Homo sapiens: one gene and its partners. The protein of the gene in region 1 purifies or fractionates together with the protein of each later gene. This does not show direct contact. Each region holds a gene or a part of one and is shown in the gene's direction. Other genes may lie near its edges. The genes, in order: PARD6G, WWC1 and MARK2.

Region 1 (3,651 bases):
CTGTAGAGACATGGTTTCCCCATGTTGCCCAGGCTGGTATCAAACTCCTAGAGTCAAACGATCCACCTGCCTTGGCCTCCCAAAGTCCTGGGATTACAGGTGTGAGCCACCACACCTAGCCAGATGCTGATACGCTTTTGCTTATTGATCTTGGTATTTTGTATTTGAGATAATTTTTAATAATTTTAAAAGATGAAATCTCCCCCAACCCCGTTTTTTACTATCCTGTTGTAGGAATAATAGTTGGGGTCAACTACAAAATAGAATAATCATTATCTAAATAATGAATGAGGGTTCATTTAGCTAGAAGCATTGAAGAATAAGAATTTGCACACCTGTGTATTTCCCAATAACAAATAATCTTATTCTTTAAAAATAAACATGGGATTCATAGGCTTACATACATTTCTTGCCATATACCTGGAATTAGCCATTTTGCCTCGGAACCATGGGTCCTTTTAAGGGGAAATGATACAGCTCATAGTGTCAGGGTACTGGTGAGGGAAAGGTGTGTTTTTTTTTTTTGTTTGTTTGTTTGTTTTCTTTTTTCGAGATGGAGTCTCACTCTGTTACTCAAGCTGGAGTGCAGTGGTGCAATCTTGGCTCACTGCACCCTCTGCCTCCTATGTTCAAGCAGTTCTCCTGGAGCACCCTCCCAAGTAGCTGGGACTACAAGCGTGTGCCACCACGCCTGCCTAAGTTTTTCTGTATTTTTAGTAGAGATGGGGTTTCACTATGTTGGCCAGACTGGTCTCGGACTCTCCCTTGGCCTCCCAAAGTGCTGAGATTACAGACATCAGCCATCGCTGGCCAATGTGGACTTTTTGATGGGGTTATCTATTAACTTGCTACTAACCTAGGCCAGGCACAGCAATGCAATCTTTTTTAGGAAATTTGATTTTTTTTTTTAACATAAACAAGGTCTTGCTATGTTGCCCAGGCTGACCTGGAACTCCTGGGCTCAAGTGATCCTCCTGCCTCAGCCTCCAAGTAGCTGGGACTACAGGTGTATACCACCATGCCTGGCTTGAGTATTGATCTTTCATTGAAATTGGTCACTGGTTTGGAGTGAGGAGATGACCTCCCGGGATAGGATGGCTCCCTTTGAGGCATTTTATGTGCGGGATAGTAGGTGAATGAATGAAGCCCAGCAGATGTTGAAGCAGCCGTCCTGTTGTAAGTCCTGCTATACGAACAAACACCCACATGAAAAACAATGAAAATATTAGGGAGTGCCAAGTCTCCTGCTAACCTTTAATGGTGGTTTAGGCATTTTCATAGTGATCCCTGAACTCTGATGTTGTGGTCTTCAAATGTCACATGAAGCCTGAAAGAATTTTGAAAAACTACCACTATAAAAGGGGATGATATATTTTTAAGTTGGTACCTGAATTTTTTTTAGTAAATATAAATAGTTTGCAAAGGATGTAATTTACAGCATGCTGTAAATATTCCATTACAAATAAAGTTTTTGGTGCATGATCTTCTAAATACAGCCAGTGAAATCTAAATGCTGCAGTGATTTGATACAGTGAAATCTAAATGCTGCAGTGATTTGATACAGTGAAATCTAAATGCTGCAGTGATTTGATACAGTGAAATCTAAATGCTGCAGTGATTTGATACCACTATCATGCATTTTAAAATAGGATAAACAGACTCTTATTTTTGCCACTTTTCTGACTCTGAAGAGCTCTTTTCTAATCAGAAATTATACATGGTTTCTTTTTCTCTTTGATTTCTTCTTCCCATTACTCCCTCAAGAGATTTTTGTCCTAATATTTTATTCTAATAACTTATGCTTCGTTACCCCTGTTACTCTTCTCTGCAACAAAAAATATGTATAAATTGAAGTTCAAATATTTTTCTCTTGTGGTCCTGGGGCTCTATTTGTTAAAAATATTTTTAAGTTGTTTACTAGTATAGGGTTCTAGCTTGCAAGATGAAAAGCAATCTAGAGAGTGGGTGCATAACAGTGTGAATGTACACTCCTGAACTGTACACTTAAAAAGAGCTAATATGGTAAATTTTATGTGTGTTTTACCACAATTATAAATGAAATAGATTGTTATAGTAAATTTCTAGATTGAGTTATTAACAAGTATTATCAAATGGTGATTGGAACATAGTTGTGCAATTTGATAATCACTAGCCATCCAAGTAAACATCTGAAGAATCTTTCGTTTACATTAAGTATTTATTGATAATCACTAGCCATCCAAATAAACTTCGGAAGAATCTTTCATTTACTGTTAAGTATTTATTGATAATCACTAGCCATCCAAATAAACATCGGAAGAATCTTTCATTTACTGTTAAGTATTTATTGATAATCACTAGCCATCCAAATAAACATCGGAAGAATCTTTCATTTACTGTTAAGTATTTATTGATAATCACTAGCCATCCAAATAAACATCTGAAGAATCTTTCATTTACTGTTAAGTATTTATTGATAATCACTAGCCATCCAAGTAAACATCGGAAGAATCTTTCATTTACTGTTAAGTATTTATTGATAATCACTAGCCATCCAAATAAACATCGGAAGAATCTTTCATTTACTGTTAAGTATTTATTGATAATCACTAGCCATCCAAATAAACATCGGAAGAATCTTTCATTTACTGTTAAGTCTTTATTGATAATCACTAGCCATCCAAATAAACATCTGAAGAATCTTTCATTTACTGTTAAGTATTTATTGATAATCACTAGCCATCCAAGTAAACATCTGAAGAATCTTTCATTTACGTTAAGTATTTATTGATAATCACTAGCCATCCAAATAAACATCTGAAGAATCTTTCATTTACTGTTAAGTATTTATTGATAATCACTAGCCATCCAAATAAACATTTGAAGAATCTTTCATTTACTGTTAAGTATTTATTGATAAATGAGGTAGGCTGGCACTAATTGTTTTGCAATTTTTATTGTTGGGTGTCAACACTGTGAAGCTTCATTTGCACACTCAGGTAGATGAGAGTGAAGGCCCCTAAGCACAGCTCAGTTCTTTGAACTCTCAACAGGTTGTGTGACAAAAATAATAGGGTGGTCTCTCAAAATTATTTTGATAATTAGCTGACAGTTCAGTTAGGACAACTTTATATTTTGTCAAAAGCAAGTAATTGGAAACTACTTGACTTGCAAGGTTTATTGCCTGGTCATTAGAGCCATTCACTGTTTCAGTTTCTGGTAAGTATACTGGAAGGACTTTACCAAGAAGTATGTGACAATGAATTATACCTGCTAATTCCTTCATTTAGAGGACTCTTGTTTAATCTGATATCATGGGGAAATAAAAATATTTAGTACCCAATACCAATATGATTTTTAAATACAATGCTTTTGTCATGTCACATTTCACATCTCTTTTTGTCAAAACTTTGGAGCTCATTCAACATATGAAGCATGTTTACCATATAGCTGGGTTGGCAAAGTCAGCCTCATCATTAAACACAAATCAACCTTGTTTTCTCTCAGGAAACAGTCTGAATTTATTTTTCATTTCAAGTTAACATGCTAAGACATATTTTGAGAAAATTATTGAACGTACTGAGAAACTGAGATGTGTTTTAGGTTAGTTGCTAAATAAAGTTAAGACTGAAACATTGTAGAACTAACATTTAGCCTATGCTGTTTCAGGGA
Region 2 (3,651 bases), on another chromosome or scaffold:
CCCCCCGCCCCGACCTTTAGAGCAGCCCACCTGTTCAGTATTCATACCCACATATCCATAATAGAGCTCTTCTCTTCCCCCGGGATCCTCTGCCTCAGCCTTTTCCTCTTAGCAGATGCCATCTGCAGGGCCACTTGGCTGCCCGTAGCAGTAACCGCACAGTCTTCCACATTTACTCCCTCAGCCTCAGCTGCTCCTGCAGCCCAGGCACTGTCTCTGTCTCTGCATTGCTCAAGCCTCCACCATCTCGGTTACACCTCACAGCCACCCTCCCCGCCTTCAGTCTTCAGCCTCCTGCCCATTGTCCTCCCCACAGTCATGGTGACCTCAAGATGATAAGGTCTTTGCTAAAGCCCCTGCTTGGAATGTTCTTCCCTCCTGCACTTTTCCTAGCCAACTGCTGTCCATTATCCATCCTTAAATTTCTCTACTAGTCAGGAATCTAACTGCTGCAAGAAACAGCCCCCAAAGTCTCCGTGGCTTCATACAACGGGTTTATTTTTTGTTCATATAATGTCTAATTGGGTATGTCCAGTTAACAGGCAGCCTTCCATGTGGTCATTCAGGAACTCAGGCTCTTTCCATCTGTGACGCCTCCCCTTTGAGTCCACAAGAGTCCATGCAACAGACAGTAAAGAAGACACACACACTTTTCTTAACTACTAGTGCTCACATCCCATTGGCCAGAACTTGGTCATACGCCCTGCCCACCCGGCCACAGGGAAGGCTGGGAAAATGGTGGAGGCAGGGTACACACCACCAGTCTCAGCCACAGAGTCACTTGACTGGAAGAGGCTCACCTGCCAGTTCAAATTGGGCCTCTCCTTTTGTGTTCTTTTCTACCATTTGTACTTTTTCTTCATGGACCTTGTCACACACTGTGTTAATTAGATATTTGAGTATTTCTTTAATATCGGTTCTCCCCAGTAGAATGTAAGCCCTATAAGAACAGAAACAAGTCCTACTGTGCTCACTCACTACTTTATCCCCAGTGCCACAGGCAGGGTCCAGTACAAAACGGGCATTCAGTAAATATGAGCTGAAAGATGGAGGAAGGAAGAGAAGGAGGGTATGGTTGGGTGAAATCCTAATTCTGCCACTAATTCCACAGCTTTAGGTAAATTATACAACTCTAAGGGCCTCGATTTCCTCTTATGTAAAGTGGTAAAAATCATTCTTACTATGCAGCATTATTGTGTGACTGAATTAAGGCAGTGTCCTAAGGTTCCCAGCAGAGTGCCTGATATATATATATAGTGGGTGAGTGATATTGCAGTTATCATAGGATTATAATATATGTGGAAGCTCTAGCTCCCCAGATGCCGTGGTCAAATGCTTTACGGAAAGTTCTTGTGCCTGTGGGTCTGGGTGTACATGGGTAAGAGTGCATGCCTGTGCTTCCTTTTGGTGCATCCCTCGCATGCTTTCTCTCCTTCCAGGTTAAAGTTAAACAGTAAGAGGAACCAGCTTGTGAGAGAACTGGAGGAAGCCACCCGGCAGGTGGCAACTCTGCACTCCCAGCTGAAAAGGTGAGTGGTGGGCGGTGAGGCCACTGCTCCCCTGGGCATGGCCAGACATGGGTGTCCCCAGTGTCCCAGCCCAGGCTCTACCCTTCACTTGTCCTCCGTGGCTTGAGAGTGGATGTTTAGAAGCATAGCAAATGGATTGTCAGCAGACTCGGGCGTGGCCTGGTGTAGCTAGGAATAGGGGTCTTGACCTCTCCAGACTGATAGCACAAAGAAGGCCCCAGGCAGGTAATAGGTAGTCTTAAGAGACTCGGCTGGGTGTCATGGCTCACACCTGTAATCCCAGCACTTTGGGAGGCCAAGGTGGGTGGATCGCTTCAGCTCAGGAGTTTGAAGCCAGCCTGAGCAACATGGCGAAACTAAAAATACAAAATTAGCTGGGTGTGGTGGTGCATGCCTGTGGTCCCAGCTACTCAGGAGGCTGAGGTGGGAGGATGACTTGAGCCCGGGAGGAGGCTTACCGTGAGCCGAGATTGTGCTACTGCACTCCAGCCTGGGTGATAGAGCCAGACCTTGTCTCCAAAAAGAAAAAAAAAGCCTTAGGAAACTCACACTGCCACCTACCTGCACAACACAGAGAATGTAGCCTCAGACCTGGGCCTCCATGAACAACAGTGCATCAGTGGAATTCAATAACATTTTGTTCCATTAGATTTTTTTCTAATGGTGGTCTTCTCTTTGTAGTAAGTGATACTGCTTTTCAAATTACACTTAGGATGTAAAGTTTCCTTTTAATATAGATGTTTTAAAGTATTAAAACAGTGAGTTGGGGCAGGCGTGGTGGCTTACGCCTGTAATCCTACCACTTTGGGAGGCCGACGCAGGCGGATTGCCTGAGCTCAGGAGTTCGAGACTAGCCTGGGCAACACGGTGAAACCCCCTCTCTACTAAAATACAAAAAATTAACCGGGCGTGGTGGCAGGTGCCTGTAGTCCCAGCCACTTGGGAGGCTGAGGCAGGAGAATTGCTTAAACCCAGGAGGCGGAGGTTGCAGTGAGCCGAGATCGCCCCACTGCACTCCAGCCTGGCGACAGAGCAAGACTCCATCCCCCCCCAAAAAAAAAAAAAAAAAAAAAAACACAGTGAGTTGATTTCAAGAAAGATATTAAGAAATCTTTATTACATAATGGATTCAACTATGAAAACATATCATACAAATGCAACGTAGCCAATTGGAGCTTTGGGAAACACAGATTTAGAGGAAAAAGTGGACTTTTAAGGCAGCTATAACTTGAGTCCAAAGCCCAGCTCTGCCATGTCTTGATTATGTGGCCTTCTTGGGGTATCAGTTTTCCATGAAGTGGGGGTGAAGGGTCTACCCTAGAGATTGCCAAGCAAGTCTAGTGAGATCATGGTGCTTTCCAGAGCTCAGCAGAAGGTCTCAGGGGGCCCACTTCACTGTGTGCATCTCACTGTCCTTCCCCTCCCTGTGTCCCAGTCTCTCAAGCAGCATGCAGTCCCTGTCCTCAGGCAGCAGCCCCGGATCCCTCACGTCCAGCCGGGGCTCCCTGGTTGCATCCAGCCTGGACTCCTCCACTTCAGCCAGCTTCACTGACCTCTACTATGACCCCTTTGAGCAGCTGGACTCAGAGCTGCAGAGCAAGGTGGAGTTCCTGCTCCTGGAGGGGGCCACCGGCTTCCGGCCCTCAGGCTGCATCACCACCATCCACGAGGATGAGGTGGCCAAGACCCAGAAGGCAGAGGGAGGTGGCCGCCTGCAGGCTCTGCGTTCCCTGTCTGGCACCCCAAAGTCCATGACCTCCCTATCCCCACGTTCCTCTCTCTCCTCCCCCTCCCCACCCTGTTCCCCTCTCATGGCTGACCCCCTCCTGGCTGGTGATGCCTTCCTCAACTCCTTGGAGTTTGAAGACCCGGAGCTGAGTGCCACTCTTTGTGAACTGAGCCTTGGTAACAGCGCCCAGGAAAGATACCGGCTGGAGGAACCAGGAACGGAGGGCAAGCAGCTGGGCCAAGGTAGAGAGCACCATACCCAGAGGGTGGGAACCAGGAGGAGGGAAAGAGATACTCTGTGCTCAGAACCCCCCAGTGATCATTCTAGTCGATATTTACTGACTGCTTCTGTGTGCTGGGTCTTTGTATGGCAAGTATATTTATTCAGTGGATG
Region 3 (3,651 bases), on another chromosome or scaffold:
TGGATTTGGTAGACGCAGCAGAGGGCATGGCTGGCTCATCCTGATGCCATCCCGGGTAGCACGTCCCCACAGCCAGCCCTCCTCCAGCTTCCCCAACTTCCCAGCCACAGGGAAGGCCGTGCATGAGCTAGACAACCACCCTATTTTCTTTTCCCTGCCCGGTTTTGGTTTTTTGGGAAAAACAAATCCTGGCAGGGACTGTTTGGAGAGACCTGATGGGAGCAAGTTGGGCAGGCATGACCCCTGGTATTTTATCTTCCAGCTATTCCGCGAAGTAAGAATAATGAAGGTTTTGAATCATCCCAACATAGGTGAGCACAAGTTGTTATTTCTTTCTTCTTCCCCAACAGCAAGGCACTGCTTTCCAGCATGTCATCTTCTCCCCGAGGTGCACTGCCTTCTGGAGTCTGCAGTCTTCAAGGATACCCCTGGGGAAGCTCAGCTCAAAATCCATCTCCCCTTCTGGCACACTGGGCTGTCTTTAGCAGTTTGGCTGGCATGAGAGGAACTTGTTCTTGGGAGTGGGGGATCATGAAAGGAGGGGAGACTTTCGTTCCTAGGATGCTCCTGGACATGTTGGAGAGCAGTATGTGGCCCCTGTTGCTTCTTGACTTAAGGCTTGGCCTTTTCTCTTGTAGTTAAATTATTTGAAGTGATTGAGACTGAGAAAACGCTCTACCTTGTCATGGAGTACGCTAGTGGCGGTAGGTGTGGAACTGCCTCTTCCTGTTGTGCCCCCACTTCTTCCACCTCCAGCCAGCTCTGACTGAGATCCCTGCCTGGTCTCTTACAGGAGAGGTATTTGATTACCTAGTGGCTCATGGCAGGATGAAAGAAAAAGAGGCTCGAGCCAAATTCCGCCAGGTAGGTGTGACTCCCTCCATAGGAGCTAGGCCTGACCTCTGCTTTTGGGGTTTGACATGTAAGGATAAGCTGCCTGTCTGTAAGTGGCCCTTGGAGGGTACTTTGGGCTCTGCTTATCCGTGTGGCAGGTTAGCACTAAGTCACAGGGTCACTGCTCTGTCAGCCCCTGTGGCCCACCCTCAGGCACCCCTGGGTTAACCCTTCTTCCTTCCTTTCAGATAGTGTCTGCTGTGCAGTACTGTCACCAGAAGTTTATTGTCCATAGAGACTTAAAGGTAAGGCATGCACTTCTCCTTGTGCCTTTGAGTGGGAGCCAGGTTGTTGCCTCTTGGTTCTCCATGATAAAACCATCAATAACCATCAGGCCCTGAGTGTTCCAGGAAACTCCAGCCTTTCTTTTTTTCTTTCTTTCTTTCTTTTTTTTTTTTTGAGATGACCAGAAAGCCCCTAGGGCTGCCTCTGATAGAGGCCTTGTGGCTGGACCTCGGGTTCCATTCTAGCCCTTGAGCAGGGGCCCTCTGCCATTTCACCTCTTGGCACATCACCTTTTAGTGCTGCCAAGCAAGGCAGGCACACTCCAGGCTTTCTCAGTCTTTCAGGCAACCTGGTAGCTGACCCAGGGAAGAGTGCTGAAAGTTCCACAGCTGTATCCCAGCTGCTTTGCAGGCAGGCACACACATACCATCTCCATCACCAAGATACTCAAGTTTGAGGACACCTGTGGGTCTCTTGGCTGCTGAGTCCTCACAGACATGATTTGATTAACCTGGGCCTGATGCTGAAGCTTTGCACAGCTCACAGGGTCTCTGGGCCTTCAGATCCCATCTCTCCCATGGCTGCCCACGTGAGGAGTGGCCTGCATTGCCTTCCTCCTGCCCAGCCTATTCACGCTGATTGAAGCCCTGCCCTGAAATTGGTGGAGAAAGTTCTGAGACTGAAGATGACTTTCCGTTTGTTCTCCCATTCCCCTCAGCTCCTTCCTGCCCAGGGCCTTAGTCTGGTCCACTTGGTTCCCTGATGTTTTCCATCTTACCTCCCAGGCAGAAAACCTGCTCTTGGATGCTGATATGAACATCAAGATTGCAGACTTTGGCTTCAGCAATGAATTCACCTTTGGGAACAAGCTGGACACCTTCTGTGGCAGTCCCCCTTATGCTGCCCCAGAACTCTTCCAGGGCAAAAAATATGATGGACCCGAGGTGGATGTGTGGAGCCTAGGAGTTATCCTCTATACACTGGTCAGCGGATCCCTGCCTTTTGATGGACAGAACCTCAAGGTGGAGTGAAGTGCAAGCTTTTTATTGCTTCTCATTTCCTCTCGGCCTCTGGTCTTAGCCCTGACCTCCTGCCTTTGCCACCTGTCTACATTTGTCCCAAGCCAAAGCTTCAGAGAAGGGCTTGCTGAGGTAGCAGCAGTCAAAGGCCTTCTGCACCTGGGAATGAATAACCTCAGTTCCTTTCTCGAAAGATGGGATAAACTGTGTGTGTGTTCATCCCCCAAGGCACTCCGGATTGCAGGCCTCGGACTGGTCAAGTTAGAGGGTACGAGGGTATTTGACTTCACTTGCCTCTCTGGTGAGGTGTCTTGTCCCCAGGCTGTCTGCCTTCTTCCATATTTCATTTATGTCTGCTTTGCCAGGCTTAAGCTCTCAGGATCTTGGATATTAGGTTTCTTCCTTTGGCCTTGGGGTGATTTCAATTTTCTAACCCTGGATCCTCCTGCAGGAGCTGCGGGAACGGGTACTGAGGGGAAAATACCGTATTCCATTCTACATGTCCACGGACTGTGAAAACCTGCTTAAGAAATTTCTCATTCTTAATCCCAGCAAGAGAGGCACTTTAGAGGTGAGCAGTGGAGCCCAACTGGCGGAAGGGCCTGGGGTCCCCACAGAAACTTTCCAGCTGAGTTTCTTCCCCCTGCCCTTTTCCTTCTCTGTGCTCCCCAGCAAATCATGAAAGATCGATGGATGAATGTGGGTCACGAAGATGATGAACTAAAGCCTTACGTGGAGCCACTCCCTGACTACAAGGACCCCCGGCGGACAGGTGAGGCTGTGCCGGGCTGTGAGGTTAAGCTTGCCTAGGAGTTGAGGCCAGTCTTAACTGTATGTCCCCCTGTGCAGAGCTGATGGTGTCCATGGGTTATACACGGGAAGAGATCCAGGACTCGCTGGTGGGCCAGAGATACAACGAGGTGATGGCCACCTATCTGCTCCTGGGCTACAAGAGCTCCGAGGTGTGTGCTCCCCGCCCCATTCTCTGACCTGGCCAGCCTCACTGTCTGTAGCACCTATGCTTCTAACACCTGTTGAGGGCAGAAGCTCATCTCTGAGTAGGTGTGCTCTCTGCTCACCAATTTTAAGCCTCAGCTTTGGTGTCTAAGGTCCTCTGGCCCATTCACTGATCTCCATGAGTGAATTAATAGAAAGCTGGTAGGGTCGGTGTGGGACTGGGTCAGAGTTTCAATACGGGTGAGTTGATCTAGGTTAGTCTGCATTGATTAGATGTGTCTAGGTCATCGGCTAGCACTACTACATTGATCTAGATATCTTTGTGTCTCTTTTTGTATCTGGAAGTGTACATTTCTGGGTGTGTGTGTGTGTCTCTGTGTGTGTCTGATCGGAAGTTTGAGTCTGTTGCTTTTTTTTTTTTTTTTTTTTTTGAGACGGAATTTCGCTCTTGTTGCCCAGGCTGGAGTGCAATGGCAGGATCTTGGCTCACTGCAACCTCCGCCTCCCGGGTTCAAGCGATTCTCCTGCCTCAGCCTCCCAAGTAGCTGGGATTACA

The links.
Region 2: the proteins of PARD6G (region 1) and WWC1 purify together in Homo sapiens (co-immunoprecipitation; one large-scale study listed by IntAct). This does not show direct contact.
Region 3: the proteins of PARD6G (region 1) and MARK2 purify together in Homo sapiens (affinity purification with mass spectrometry; one large-scale study listed by BioGRID and IntAct). This does not show direct contact.

The regions. Positions count from the first base shown.
Region 1 is NC_000018.10:80,205,999-80,209,649, reverse strand, and holds part of PARD6G (partitioning defective 6 homolog gamma), read left to right. Parts: intron 1-3,651. UniProt on the Homo sapiens protein: Adapter protein involved in asymmetrical cell division and cell polarization processes. May play a role in the formation of epithelial tight junctions. The PARD6-PARD3 complex links GTP-bound Rho small GTPases to atypical protein kinase C proteins.
Region 2 is NC_000005.10:168,420,569-168,424,219, forward strand, and holds part of WWC1 (protein KIBRA), read left to right. Parts: intron 1-1,439; coding exon 1,440-1,529; intron 1,530-2,964; coding exon 2,965-3,500; intron 3,501-3,651. UniProt on the Homo sapiens protein: Regulator of the Hippo signaling pathway, also known as the Salvador-Warts-Hippo (SWH) pathway.
Region 3 is NC_000011.10:63,897,970-63,901,620, forward strand, and holds part of MARK2 (serine/threonine-protein kinase MARK2), read left to right. Parts: intron 1-262; coding exon 263-311; intron 312-638; coding exon 639-704; intron 705-793; coding exon 794-864; intron 865-1,082; coding exon 1,083-1,139; intron 1,140-1,904; coding exon 1,905-2,141; intron 2,142-2,589; coding exon 2,590-2,709; intron 2,710-2,810; coding exon 2,811-2,910; intron 2,911-2,987; coding exon 2,988-3,100; intron 3,101-3,651. UniProt on the Homo sapiens protein: Serine/threonine-protein kinase. Involved in cell polarity and microtubule dynamics regulation. Phosphorylates CRTC2/TORC2, DCX, HDAC7, KIF13B, MAP2, MAP4 and RAB11FIP2. Phosphorylates the microtubule-associated protein MAPT/TAU.